Linked DNA regions of Homo sapiens. The protein of the gene in region 4 purifies or fractionates together with the protein of the main gene of each other region. This does not show direct contact. Each region holds a gene or a part of one and is shown on either strand. Other genes may lie near its edges.

Region 1 (2,775 bases), on a different chromosome or scaffold from region 4:
GCTCCCCACGCAGAGCCCCCACCTGCCGGATCCCCTCCCCTATGGGCTGGGGGCTCACAGCAGGCGTGTCTGGAGGCAAAGCTGCACCCACATGGTCAGGCAATGGACACTTGCCGGGTGGACCCACAGGTCCTGCTCCAAGTTCTGCAAAAACGGCTCTAGTCCTCACTGTGCTGTGACCGACTAGCATCAGCCCTTTGGGGTCCCCTGTTGCCACTTGTGAAGGACACGAAATCCCAGGGCCCTTCCTTAGGGTCGGTGCCCTGTGGACTACGCCTAGTGTCCACACACTTGGGCCAGGCACGCCTGGAACCATCAGGACTCCAGAAGCGGGAAAGGAGGCAGCAGCTGGGGGCCTTGCTCTACCCCAGAATCAGCCCAGGTCTCTGACCACACGTGGCTCAGCAGGTCCCCTCCGGCTGAGCCACCAGGCCCTGTACAGACCCCACCCCACTCGGGACCCTGGCCACAAAGGCACACACCTCCTAACAGACACCCACTTGGTTTTGGGCTGTTTATTTTCCCATCAGAGCAGTTTCCCGGCCCGCGAGACAGAGGGGACACAAACGCAGCAAGGGCGGCCGCAGAAGGGCACCGCTGGCACGGGGTGGCCCCAATGACCGAGTCCAGGAAAGCTCGATCCGCACGGAAGGCAGCACCCGTGCTCCCCGCTGGAGGCGGTATGTGTCCCTGAAATCCACGGTCAGGCTTGTGCGGAAGAAATCGAGGCCCGGAAGTCCAGGAGGGGCGCCCCACGGCCGGGAGCGGGAAGGGTCCGGAGGCAGGAGGGCGGCGCCTACGTGTCGGGGTCCAGCCAGCGGCACTGCTCCTCCAGCACCCCGCGGAACACCTGGAAGCGGTGGTTGAGGTCGGGCCGTGCGTGGATGCGGAAGCGGGTGCCCAGGGCGCCGTCGGGCGAGGGCGCACCGTAGAAGACGCGCAGGATGCGTGCGTGCACCAGGGCCATGGCGCACATGGCGCAGGGCTCGCGGGTCACGTACAGGTCGTAGCCAGTGCACAGGTAGGGGAGGCCGTCCTCGTCTGCGTCCAGTTTACGCACGGCGCCTGCGCGGACGGCCTGGGGGGCAGCGGCCGGGGCGAAGGAGCAGGCGGGGAAGGGTCTGAAGTCGTAGGTGCCGCGGCCCTGGCCGCGCGCCACGAGGTCCACGCACACCATGACGGCGTGCAGGAGGGGGTTGTCCGCGCAGCTGCAGTCGTGGCCGGTGGCCAGCACGCGGTCCGAGGCCGGGTCCACTACCACGGCCCCCACGGCCCGCAAGCCCCGCGCTGCTGCCCGCCGGGCCGCCCACACCGCCCGCTCCATGTGGCTCTGCATGGCGGCGCGCTCCTGCGTGGAGAAGAGCCGCCCAGCCAGGGCGCTGGTCACCTGCTTGTCCTCGTGGAAGGACGTGGGCCAGTGGGCCCGGGCCTCCTCGAACTGGCCCCTGGTCAGAGGCGGCCGGGCGGGCACGGGCACCAGGAAGGGTTGCCCCAGGCCGCGGGGGTCCACAGCCGGCCGTGGCAGGAGCTCAGCCAGCGAGCGCGGGCCCGAGGCCGGCCCAGCCAGGCAAAGCAGCATCTCCAGGGCGTGGGGGCTGCCGGCATCGCGGCTGGGCCGCACCCGCTTGAGGTGAGGCTGGGCGGGGAGCGGGTGCAGGGCCGACACCTCCTTCAGGAGGCGTGAGGTCTGGCGCTTGTCCAGGACGGGCGCGGCGTAGGCCAGCACCAGCTCCACGTCCCCTGACTGCTTCTCGGACAGGACAGGGAGGGCCTGCCACGGCGCCGGCTCAGGCTCCGGGCTCCCGGCCTCCAAGCACTTGGGCTGCTCCACGAGGCCCGGGGCGGGCTCCATCCTCAGCGAGGCCGACTGTGGGAGACAGAGACGGGAGCAGAGGATCATCCGGCGGCTGCGGGCGGCTGGGGGAGAGCCGGGGAGTCCGTCCCGGGAGGCCGTGGCTCCACAAGGCAGGGCGTGCTGCCACCAAAGCTGAGGCTAGTCCGAGGGCTCCGGCCCAGGTCACCGCATCAGAGCTACACTCCCTCATGTCCTGCTAACCCCTGGTGTGCACAGAGTTTAAACAGCCATTGGTTTTTAAAAACGAAGATATAATTCACCTACCAGAAGACAGATCATTTTCTTTTTTTTTTATTTTATTTTTTTACTTCTGAGACGGAGTCTCGCTGTCGCCCAGGCTGGAGTACAGTGGCATGATCTCAGCTCACTGCAACCTCCGCCTCCCGGGTTCAAGCTATTCTCATGCCTCAGCCTCCAGAGTAACTGGGATTACAGGCATGCGCCACCACGCCCGACTAATTTTTGTGTATTTTTAGTAGAGATGGGATTTCACCACGTCGTTCAGGCTGGTCTCGAACTCCTAACCTCACGTGATCCACCCGCTTCAACCTGGTGGTGGGATTACAGGTGTGAGTCACTGCGCCCAGCCAAGACAGGTCATTTTCAAAAGCACAATTCATGGCTAGGTACCAGCGGCTCACGCCTGTAATCCCAGCACTATGGGAGGCCGAGGTGGGGGGATCACTTGAGCCCAGGAGTTTAAGACCAGCCTAGGCAACATAACAACACCCCATTTCTACTAAATATCAAAAAATTAGCTGGGCGTGGTGGCACACACCGGTGGTTTCAGCTACTCGAGAAGCTGAAACAGGAGGAGCACTTGAGGCCGGAAATTCAAGGCTGCAGTGAGCTACAATCGTGCCACTGTACCCCAGCCTGGCTGACAGAGCAAGATGCCATCTCAAAAAAAAAATGAAAAC
Region 2 (3,500 bases), on a different chromosome or scaffold from region 4:
GTTTCACTGTGTTAGCCAGGATGGTCTCAATCTGCTGACCTCATGATCCGCCCGTCTTGGCCTCCCAAAGTGCTGGGATTACAGGCGTGAGCCACTGTGCCCTGCCAATTTTTGTATTTTTAGTAGAGACAGGGTTTCTCCACATTGGTCAGGCTGGTCTCGAACTCTCGACCTCAGGTGATCCACCTGCCTTGGCCTCCCAAAGTGATGGGATTACAGGTGTGAGCCACCGCACCTGGTTGCTTTTTAAAAATTTTATTGGGAGGTTTTTTGTTGTTGTTTTGTTTTTTTGAGACGGAGTCTTGCTCTGTCACCCAGGCTAGTGGCATGATCGTGGCTCACTGCAACCTCTGCCTCCTGGGTTCAAGTGATTCTCCTTCCTCAGCCTCCTAAGTAGCTGGGATTACAGGCACATGCCACCACGCCTAGCTAATTTTTGTATTTTTAGTAGAGACGGGGTTTCACCATGTTGGTCAGGCTGGTCTCTCCTGACCTCGTGATCTGCCTGCCTTGGCTTCCTAAAGTGCTGGGATTACAGGTGCAAGCCACCGCACCCAGCCTGGTTTTTTTTGTTGTTGTTTTTTTTAATAGGTAATATAATCACTTGGTTCAAAATTCAAAAGGTTAAACAGAGAGATACAGTGAAATCTCCTTCTTACTTCTACCCCCAAGTCACCCAGTTTCCTAGTCCTCGGCATCCTGTGTTAACAGTTTCTTGTATGTTCTTCCAAAGGTGTTTTTTGCATATGGAAGTTAAAAACATTTATCCTTCCTGCCCCCACCCTTGGTAGCATTAAGACACATTATTTCCCACATGTTTTTTTCCAATGAGTGTAATTTGGGTTATTCCGTATCAGTACATAAAGAGCATTCTTATTCTTTTATACAGCTGCATAACCGTTACATGATATCTCAGTCTGTTTGTGCTGCTCCAACAAAATACCTGAGACTGGGTAATTTATAAGGAACAGAAATCTATTTCTTACCATTCTGGAAGCTAGGAAGTCTAAGATCACAGTGCCAGCAGGTTTGGCGTCTCTGCTTCCAAGATGGCACCTTAAATGCTACTTCCTTTGGAGGGAACAAATGCTGTGCCCTAACATAGTAGAAGGAGCAAAAGGGTCAAGCACCTCCCTTGCACCTCTTTTATAAGGTCATTAATCCTATTAATACCATTACTAGTGATTAAGTATCAACATACAAATTTTGGGAGAACACATTAAGACCATAGCATATGGATAGATCATGATATGGGATATATTTTGATTTGTTTAACATGTCTGCCTCTGATAGACATTAATTTCCAGTGTTTTGCTATTACCAACTTTGACATGGTGAGTCACTTGGGATATTGATCTCTTCACATTTGTTAGTGTATCTAACAAATACACTAACTGTTAGTTTTTGAACTCTTTGAAGCAGGAGACTACCACTTAAAAGTTGTAGTATTGACATTGTCATTATATCAATAATGTATTGATGTTATAGTATCATAACATTGATGTTAAGTATTGGTAATATTGCTGTTAAGTCATTAGTTTAGAACTTCAACAATCAAGTTCATTCACTTAACAAATACACGTTTTGTACTTGCTGTGTGCTGGCCACTGGGGAAACTGAATTAAATGCTGTGGCAGTTGAAATAGAGGCATGGTGATTAAGAGTTTTCGGATCTAGAGTCAGACTTGGATTCATATCTCAGTTCTAAAGCTTAACTGAACCTTTGGCAAATAACAGAACTTCTATTTTTCCTTCTCTGTAATGTGGGAATCATAAGGTTATTGGAGAAGTAAATGAGATAGTACATGACAAATCCTTAGCATGATGCCTGGCATATAATAAACACTGAGATGTTAGCTTAAAAAAAGTTATCAGACTATATTGCAGTTGACTTTATGTTCTGCCTCCACTGTGCTTAAAGTCTAGGCCTGTGTTTTGTTCACCTTTGTGTCCCCAACCCATAACTGGCTTGCATTTAGTAAAAAATTTGTGATACGATATAAAGGTATGCAGAGCATACAGTGAAAGTTCAAAGCAGGATACCTTTTCCATGCTGGAGAAGGTGAATCTTTGAAAGTCGGTAGGAGTGATTAGGTAAAGGAGGTGAAGGAGTAAAGATAATTATTCTAGACTGAGAAATTATGTTAGTATCAGGTTATGAGGTTAGAAGAGGTAAGTAGGCAACTGGTATTGCTGTGCTGAGAATTTAAAAATCTTTATTGAAGGCTTTAAAAGAAAAGTGGTAATCGTAAGAATCGTGATGATAATTCTCTCTGTTGAGAGTTGACAGGGCACCAGGTTGGAGCCATTAAATTGAAGGAGTTTAATGTAGCAGTTTAGGACTAAAAATTGGTCAGAAGCAGGGCAATGGGAAAGGACATGAGGGGGATGGTTGTAAGGTGTTAGGGAAGATGTGGGTGGTGAGTAATGAGTCCAGAATATTTGAGCTTTCTGACTTGAGTGAATGGGTAGATGAATAGATGCTATTTCTTGAAATAGGTAATTTGAAACATGAAATTGAGAGGCCTGGGGGACATCCAAGTGGACATGTCTTGTAGGGTCTCAATACTAGGAAGACATCTAGGATAGAAAATAAACATTTTCTGATAATTGTAAATGTATTCATTTGTGCTTTGAATTTTTATGTTTAGTAAGTGAGTTTGTGAACAGAGTTGAAGGAAATTACAATAAAGTGATTTGTGTGAAACTTCGTTGTCCTTCAAATATAGACTGAGGTCTCCAGTTTCTGGGGTAGTACTAAAATGTTTCCTTTTTTTTTTTTTTTGAGATGGAGTCTTGCTCTGTCACCCAGGCTATAGTGCAGTGGCGCGATCTCAGCTCATTGCCAGCTCCGCCTCCCACGTTAACGCCATTCTTCTGCCTCAGCCTCCCGAGTAGCTGGGACTACAGGCGCCCGCCACCACACCTGGCTAATTTTTTGTGTTTTTAGTAGAGCCTGGGTTTCACCGTGTTAGCCAGGATGGTCTCAATCTCCTGACCTCATGATCCGCCCGCCTTGGCCTCCCAAAGTGCTGGGATTACAGGCGTGAGCCACCGCGCCCAGCCAGATGTTTACTTATTTAAAATTTCAGCTGGTACGTTTCACAGCAGCAGTTGCTTCAGACTCAGGGTTATGCTAGTGTTTCTTTGCAGGAGTGACATTTTGTATCCTTATATATTGTTATTGTCCATTCAGATTGTAATGAGTTAATGAGTTTTTTTTTTTTTGAGACAGAGGCTCGCTCTGTCGCCCAGGCTGGAGTGCAGTGGTGAGACAGAGGCTCACTGCAACCTCCACCTCCCTGGTTCAAGCAATTCCTCTGCCTCAGCCTCCCGAGTAGCTGGGATTACAGGCACATGCCACCACGCCTGGCTAATTTTTTTGTATTTTTAGTAGAGACGGGGTTTCACCATGTTGGCCAGACTGGTATCGAACTCCTGACCTGAGGCAATCTGCCCACCTTGGCCTCCCAAAGTGCTGGGATTACAGGCATGAGCCA
Region 3 (3,500 bases), on a different chromosome or scaffold from region 4:
ACTCACTATGGCCAGATCCCCTTCTTCCAGTTGTCCTGGACCCTCTCTGTGTGGACTGTCCATGACCAGAGTGGCCATGTCCAGTGGCCTCTCCTGTCTGTCCATAAGTAGTTTCATGTCTCTCATGAACTGTGGATTCTGACTCTCCATGTTGAGATCCAGCTTGGCTGTGAGTTTGTTCTTGTGAGTGTGGTCTATGTGAGACCCCTGAGTGCACTTCACTGTCAGTGGCATCACTGTGGCTAAATCTCTGTCTTCCAGATGTTCTGGAACCTGTCTGTGTAGACTGTCCATGACCAGAATGGCCATGTCTAGTGGTATCTCCTCTCTGTCCATGAGTAGTTCCTTGTCTTCTGCGAACTGTGGATCCTGACTTTGGGTAGTGAGATCCAGCTTGTGTGTGAATGTGTTCTGAATGTCTGTGTGAGACCTTTGAGTGCACTTCACTGTCACTGTTCTCACTTTGGCTAGATCTTCGTCTTCTAGTTACCCTGGACCCTGTCTGTGTGGATTGTCCTTGACCAGACTGGCTATGTCTAGTGGTATTTATTGTCTGACCATGAGTAGTTTCCTGTCTCCCATGAACTGTGGATCCTGACTCTACTTGTTGAGATTCACCCTGGCCCAAGCCAGTTGATTGACCTGAGCCTGAACCATATTGGCCAAATCCAGTGGACTGACCTGAGTCAGATATATGTTGTCCAGAACTAGAGAAATTGTCTGAGCCAGACACATGCTGTCCAAAACTTGTGGTTGGACCTGAGCCAGACTCATGTTGGCCACAGCCAGATGATTGACTGGAGCCAGTACCATGTTGGCCATAGCTAGACTGACCTGATCTGTACTCATGCTGTGCAAAGCCAGAGGATTTACCTGTGCCTGACCCATGTTGTCCAAAGCCAGAAGACTGACCTGAGCCCGATCCATATTGGCCAAAGCCAGAGGACTGACCTGAGCCTGGCCTGTGTTGTCCAAATCCAGATGTCTGTCCTGAATTTGACCCATGTTGACCATAGCCAGATGATTGACTTGAGCCAGAACCATGTTGGCCATAGCTAGACTGACGTGATCTAGACTCATATTGTCCAAAACCAGAGGATTGTCCTGAACCAGTCCCATGTTGTCCAAAGCCAGAGGACTGATCTGAGCCTGATCCATGTTGTCCAAAGCCTGAGTATTGGCCTGAGCTTGACCTGTGTTGTCCAAAGCCAGTTGTCTGTCCTGAACTAGACCCATGTTGACCATAGCCAGATGACTGACTTGAGCCAGAACCATGTTGGCCATAATTAGACTGACTTGATCTAGACTCATGCTGTCCAAAGCCAGAGGATTTTCCTGAGCCTGACTCATGTTGTCCAAAGCCAGAGGACTGACCTGAGCCTGATCCATGTTGGCCAAAGCCAGAGGATTGACCTGAGCCTGACCTGTGTTGTCCAAATCCAAAAGTCTGTCCTGAACTTGACCCATGTTGACCATAGCCAGATGACTGACTTGAGCCAGAACCATGTTGGCCATAGCTAGACTGATGTGATCTAGACTCATGTTGTCCAAAACCAGAGTATTGTCCTGAGCCAGTCCCATGTTGTCCAAAGCCACTGGACTGACCTGAGCCTGATCCATGTTGTCCAAAGCCAGAGTATTGACCTGAGCTTGACCTGTGTTGTCCAAAGCCAGATGTCTGTCCCGAACTTGACCCATGTTGACCATAGCCAGATGATTGACTTGAGCCAGAACCATGTTGGCCATAGCTGGACTGATGTGATCTAGACTCATGCTGTCCAAAGCCAGAGGATTGTCCTGAGCCAGACCCATGTTGTCCAAAGCCAGCGGACTGACCTGAGCCTGATCCATATTGGCCAAAGCCAGTGGATTGACTTGAGCCTGACCCATGTTGTCCAAAGCCAGATGTCTGTCTAGACCCATGTTGGCCATAGCCAGATGACTGACTTGAGCCAGAACTGTGTTGGCCATAGCTAGACTGACCTGATCTAGACTCATGTTGTCCAAAGCCAGAGGATTGTCCTGAGCCAGACCCATGTTGTCCAAAGCCAGAGGACTGACCTGAGCCTGATCCATGTTGGCCAAAGCTGGAAGACTGACCTGAGCTTAACTCGTGTTGTCCAAATCCAGATGTCTGTCCTGAACTTGACCCATGTTGACCATAGCCAGATGATTGACTTGAGCCAAAACCATGTTGGCCATAGCTAGAATGACCTGATCTAGACTCATGTTGTCCAAAACCAGAGGATTGTCCTGAGCCAGAAACATGTTGTCCAAAGCCAGAGGACTGACCTGAGCCTGATCCATATTGGCCAAAGCCAGTGGATTGACTTGAGCCTGACCCATGTTGTCCAAAGCCAGATGTCTGTCTAGACCCATGTTGGCCATAGCCAGATGACTGACTTGAGCCAGAACTGTGTTGGCCATAACTAGACTGACCTGATCTAGACTCATGTTGTCCAAAGCCAGAGGATTGTCCTGAGCCAGACCCATGTTGTCCAAAGCCAGAGGACTGACCTGAGCCCGATCCATATTGGCCAAAGCCAGTGGATTGACCTGAGCCCAACCCATGTTGTCCAAAGCCAGATGTCTCTCTAGACCCATATTGGCCATAGCCAGATGATTGACTTGAGCCAGAACCATGTTGGCCATAGCTAGACTGACGTGATCTAGACTCATGTTGTCCAAAACCAGAGGATTGTCCTGAGACAGACCCATGCTGTCCAAAACCAGAGGATTGTCCTGAGACAGACCCATGCTGTCCAAAGCCAGAGGACTGACCTGAGCCTGACCCACATTGTCCAAAGCCAGAGGACTGACCTGAGCCAGACCCATGTTGTCCAAAGCCAGATGTCTTACCTGAGCTAGACCCATGCTGGTCATAGCCCAAGGATTGACTTGATGTAGACTCATGCTGGCCACAAGTTTGACCTGAGCCACATACATGTTGTTCGAACCCAGAGGACTGACTCAAGCCTGTTCCATGTTGTTCAAAGCTAGTAGACTGACTTGAACCAGACCCATATTGATCACATTTGGAAAATTCATTTGAACTAGAAGAGTTTGAAAAGCGGCCACAGGAACCATATTCATGTTGACCATTACTACAAGACTGGCTACCTCCAGACCCATATTGTCCACAGCAAGAGGACTGACTTGAGCCTGTTCTCCATTGTCCTCCACAGTTCTGTGGTTGACCATTTTCTCTAGCTCCATATCCTCTCTGACTATAGGACTGACTACAGGGGTTAGACTCAGGTTGACCACATCCAGAGGGCTGACCTCCTGAGACACAGCCATGGCCTTGTCCTCCCTTAATTCCTGACTGACAGCCTGACTGAATATAGCTAAATTGATTTCCTTGCCCTCCAAATCTATGTGACTGACAAGAACTTGAAGCATTTTGTGGCCTTCCACACCCACTTGAATTGCTATAACCACATGCATGACTTCGCCTCCCACTGTCTCCTGAACCTGAACAGCTAGACCCAAGCTTTTGT
Region 4 (4,300 bases):
GGGTTCAAAGAGCTTCCTGGTTGCTGAACGTGTGGAGGTGCTGGGAACAGCAGGGCACTCCTGAAGTGAGCTTGTGGCAGGCCTCCATAACAACTGTTTCAGTACTGACTGCGTGGTTAAGTTAAATGTTAAAAGCCAGTGCCCTTATACAAAGGCTGGAATGTAACAAAAGCCCACCAGGAGTTTTGCCTAGGCCTTTCCTGGGCCTTAAAGCATGACAAAATTACGAAGGAATTCTTAATGGGACCCATTTAGGATTAAACAAGTTTTACTGTGGATCTGAAGAAACGCCACAGGTCTCCACAAACAAGTTTATTGGGATCTGAAGGAATTCCTCAAAACTCCTTGATTTAGCAAGAGACAAAATAAGGGTAATCACCCCAGCACCTGGACCCATTTAGATTAAGTAAATTTACTGAGGCTCCAGTGGAAGGTCTTCAGGACTCAGACCTTAGTTATAAATTAAAAGAAGTTAATCACGTCTTTAGATGAATGCACATTTACACATAGACATATAGCTTAGAAGGTATATAAGTTCTGAAAAACTTTGTAATTTTGAGTTGGTCCAGCGATAATTTCCTGGCCTTCTCCCTGTAACCGGTTACAGAAATAAAAACTCTCTTCCTCCCCAGTTCATCTGCATCTCGTTATTGGGCCAGGAGCAATAGCAGCCCAGCCCTCAGTTTGGTCCAGGAACAGGCCTGGAAGCTCCGCGCCCTGACACCCTGCCCTATGTGTCTCCTCCGTTTAGCTGTTCCTGAGTTGTGTCCTTTATATAAAAAACCAGTAATAGTAAGTAAAGTCCTTTCCTGAGTTCTGGGAGCCATTCTAGCAAATTAGTAGATCTAAAAAGGGAGTTGTGGGAACCCCCGAATTCATAGCGGGCCAGTCAGAAGTCAGACCTATGATTGGTACCTGAAGTCGGGGGGAAGTCTTGGGGGACTCAGCCCTTAACCTGTGAAGTCTGCCCTAACTATGGATAGTGTCTGAACTGAATTGAATTGTTGAACACCCAGCCAGTGTTGGGAATTGGTGTCAGAAAAAACGTGGCAGTGGTAGGGAGCTTGTGGGGTAGTGGGGGTCCTTCTCTTTGGGGTTGAGAGATACCACTAGTGCCTCAATTCAGTTTCATCCTGAAATTCAAAGGCCTTCATGACCCTGCTGGGAATCTGACCACCGTTTTCCCACTTATTTCTGGGTTACAAATTCACACCCAAACAAACTTCTGGAACATGACCATTTATCCTATGGCAATTAAAGGACTTAAGGACTATAGACATCCTGCATGCCCCACCACGCATCCCTGGGCTCACCTGGATTTTGAGCCTGAATTTTCTGATGCCAGAGAAAGCTTTAAGTGTATTCAGAGCTTGGGTTTTGACACTGTTGTCCTTGTCATCCAGCATGTAGCCCAGCAACACGATGTCATCCGTAGTACAAGCAGAGGCCTGGAGTATTGGGGAGAGATGGAAGAGGCAGGAGAAGCGGGTGTTCTGGGCCCACTGCCCCCCATGTCACCAAGATCCCTCCGCACACCCCCCCCCCACCGCTATCAGCCAGAGAGAGGTCCCAGGATATAGTCTGGCCATTCCAGGGGCAGGGATCGGCCGTAACCCCCAGGGGCCAGGCCGGCTAGGGGGGACCTCCTGCTTCCCTTACCTCAGCCTCCAGCAAGTACACACAGCGAGTGATACTGTGCAGGATCATGCTCTTGGCATACTCATCCTGTTTGCACTCCAAAGAGTTGAGGAGCCTCCGGAGCTCACCTGAGTCCCGCCCGTGCCGCTCTCGCTCGACTGCCAGGCCTAGACAGCCACCCCAGCCCAGTTCAGGCTGTGGACTCAGAAGTGATGAAAGAATGGGGTTGGGAAGTAGGGGACAGGGACTTGGGGACAAGGCTGCCTTGCCTTTTCGGAGAAGCCTTCTCGCCATATGCAGGACCACCATGTACAGTTGAACGAATGTTTACTGCACAAGGGCACCCTATCTAATGTTGTATTGTCCATAACGTACCATCATAGATTTGTCCATTTACTCTAACAACTGTCTGGCATATGGCGGTAACAAGTAGTATTTCATCATAACCAGTATGTGGCAATGATATTCCAGCAGATGGCAATAAAGAGTCTTGCAGAAGGGGCTCATTTTCCTACTCTGCACAAAAGAACATGTGGACTAGTGGAAGCTCTGGGCATATAGTAAGTCCTCCAATCTTCCCTTTCCTTAAAGCCTCACGTTCCTAGGGCAGAAAAGGGATGGGGGGAGCTGCCGACACCAAGTTTCCAAGAAGTGGAATCCTGGGAGCCAGAGGAAATGTAGTATTTGGAGACCTGCCAGATGAGTCTGAGGATCCACTTGAGTGAGATCCAGGGACCCTGAGCTAGCATCTCTGGCAGGGCCTTGCCTAGGACGCTGCAGGGTGGGCTTGAGGAAGATGGACAAGAGAAAGACAAAGGAAAGAGGAACTTGGAGGCATCACCTTTGGGCCCTCCCACAGCAGAGGCCTCGGGAGCAGGTGCCTCCTGGGGCAGAGCCCTCTCCCCAGGGCCCGGACACTCACGGGCGATGCAGATGGGTGAGTTGCTACAGAGGGGTGGTTTGCATTTTATGCCAGCCTTGATGGCCTTGTAGAGCAGGTAGATCGCCCCGGCGCCTGTGGCCAGGCTGACTACGCTTTTGCGGATGTCCAGTTGCCCCAGGTATTGGGGGATGCTCTTGCCCATGTCTTCAGTGTTGCCCTGGGCCCAGGTGAGAGCTAGGCCCAAGGCACCTGTGGGGGGCCTTCCGGAACCAGAACTCTGGCAGGGTCAGGAACCAGGGTACCAGAATTGGAACCTAGGCAACAAAGGAAACTGGGGAGATAATGGGATGGAGGGCAGTGGTCAGGAAATGGGGCAGCCAGGAGTGCTCGAGAACAGATGGGGCCAGGCACCATGGCCCACACTTGTAATCCCAGCACTTTGGGAGGCCAAGGCAGGCAGATCACTTGAGGTCAGCAGTTCGAGACCAGCCTGGCCAATATGGTGAAACCTTGTCTCTATTAAAAATACAAAAAAATTAGCCAGGCATTGTGGCGCACACATGTAATCCCAGCTACTCAGGGGACTGAGGCAGGAGAATCGCTTAAGCCTGGGAGGTTGAGGTTGCAGTGAGCTGACACGCCACTGTACTCCAACCTAAGCGACAGAGCAAGACTCCATTTCAAAAAAAAAAAGAGAAGGTTCTGCTTTAGAGACCACAGGAGATGAAGCATAAGACAGAAGGGGAATAAAAGGGGAGAGGGCAGAAGTGTCCTTCACATCTCCTCTTCTTTAAGGGGGGACCCCAGCAGGTAGCTCCAGAGGCTGCCTTTCCACCATTAGAGGGCAGCAGAGGTCCATTTCCGGGCTGGGGCCTTAGGGCATTTCTGGGTGAGGTGTTTGGGGTATGCCCATTGACAACCCTGTTCCTTTTCTTTCCGGGCCCTCCCATATGTGATCTCTCCACCCTAGATCTACCCCTGGGCCTTGGGGTGTTTCTTCAGGTAGGGTTCCCTCCCCGCATCAGAGGATGAAAAGGAGGGGAGTATCTTAGAAAGCATGCACAGACTCTTGAGGCAAATCCACCCTTTTCCAGCATCTGCATGTTGCCCTGAAGTTTACCTGTTTGACAAAGTGCTCTTGAGGACAGCTACCTTTGCATCTCCAGCATAGAATCTTGTACTTAGCAGGTGGTTTAAGTCATGTTCTGCCATTCTTTAAGGACTTGGCGGCAGAACAATGACAGCATCTAGTAACTGGGGCTCCAGACCCTTCTAACCAGAGTGACCTTGGAGGAGAAAGGGATCGCCTTTGCCTTAGTCTGTTTCTGCATTTGTAACCTAAAGGGATTCGGATTTACCATTCTAAAACTCCAGGATTAAAATGTGGGTAAGTCTGTGCCTTTCAGCTAAATTTGGAAGTATCACCTCTCAGCCTCCCCAGGGATATGAGGCGGCTTGTGAGGTCCTCTGGAGTCAGAAGATGCCACCACCCCAGAGGATGTGAGCCCACCTGTGGAGGTCTTGATCCCCACCACTAGGATGGGGCAGGTGAGACCAGACCCTTCCCTCTTCCCCACCAGGGTCTCCCCGCAACTTCTGTCCCCACTCTCTGTTGCAGAACAGGCAAGTGGCCAGCTCCAAACTAGGGCCACGCCCACAGCCAGTGCTGAGCATGCTGCACCAGAACAGGTGTTCACCTACCTGGCCCTGATCCCTTTTTGGGAGAACTGGGACAGAAGGCTCTGGGTCCTGGGCTGCACCCAGGATGGAAGGAGGTAG

Evidence for each region. Proteins that work in one complex are often made in the same cells at the same time.
Region 1: the proteins of ARMC12 (region 4) and ADAT3 purify together in Homo sapiens (affinity purification with mass spectrometry; one large-scale study listed by BioGRID and IntAct). This does not show direct contact.
Region 2: the proteins of ARMC12 (region 4) and SEPTIN7 purify together in Homo sapiens (affinity purification with mass spectrometry, with the first as the bait; one large-scale study listed by BioGRID). This does not show direct contact.
Region 3: the proteins of ARMC12 (region 4) and FLG2 purify together in Homo sapiens (affinity purification with mass spectrometry, with the first as the bait; one large-scale study listed by BioGRID). This does not show direct contact.

Annotation. Positions count from the first base shown.
Region 1 is NC_000019.10:1,911,173-1,913,947, reverse strand, and holds the end of ADAT3 (probable inactive tRNA-specific adenosine deaminase-like protein 3), read right to left. Parts: intron 2,059-2,775; 5' UTR 1,901-2,058; coding exon 797-1,900; 3' UTR 501-796; downstream 1-500.
Region 2 is NC_000007.14:35,807,557-35,811,056, forward strand, and holds part of SEPTIN7 (septin-7), read left to right. Parts: intron 1-3,500.
Region 3 is NC_000001.11:152,353,507-152,357,006, forward strand, and holds part of FLG2 (filaggrin-2), read right to left. Parts: coding exon 1-3,500. UniProt on the Homo sapiens protein: Essential for normal cell-cell adhesion in the cornified cell layers. Important for proper integrity and mechanical strength of the stratum corneum of the epidermis.
Region 4 is NC_000006.12:35,735,532-35,739,831, reverse strand, and holds the start of ARMC12 (armadillo repeat-containing protein 12), read right to left. Parts: upstream 2,801-4,300; 5' UTR 2,724-2,800; coding exon 2,561-2,723; coding exon of another isoform or gene 2,480-2,560; intron 1,834-2,479; coding exon of another isoform or gene 1,806-1,833; coding exon 1,660-1,805; intron 1,449-1,659; coding exon 1,314-1,448; intron 1-1,313. UniProt on the Homo sapiens protein: Essential for male fertility and sperm mitochondrial sheath formation. Required for proper mitochondrial elongation and coiling along the flagellum during the formation of the mitochondrial sheath.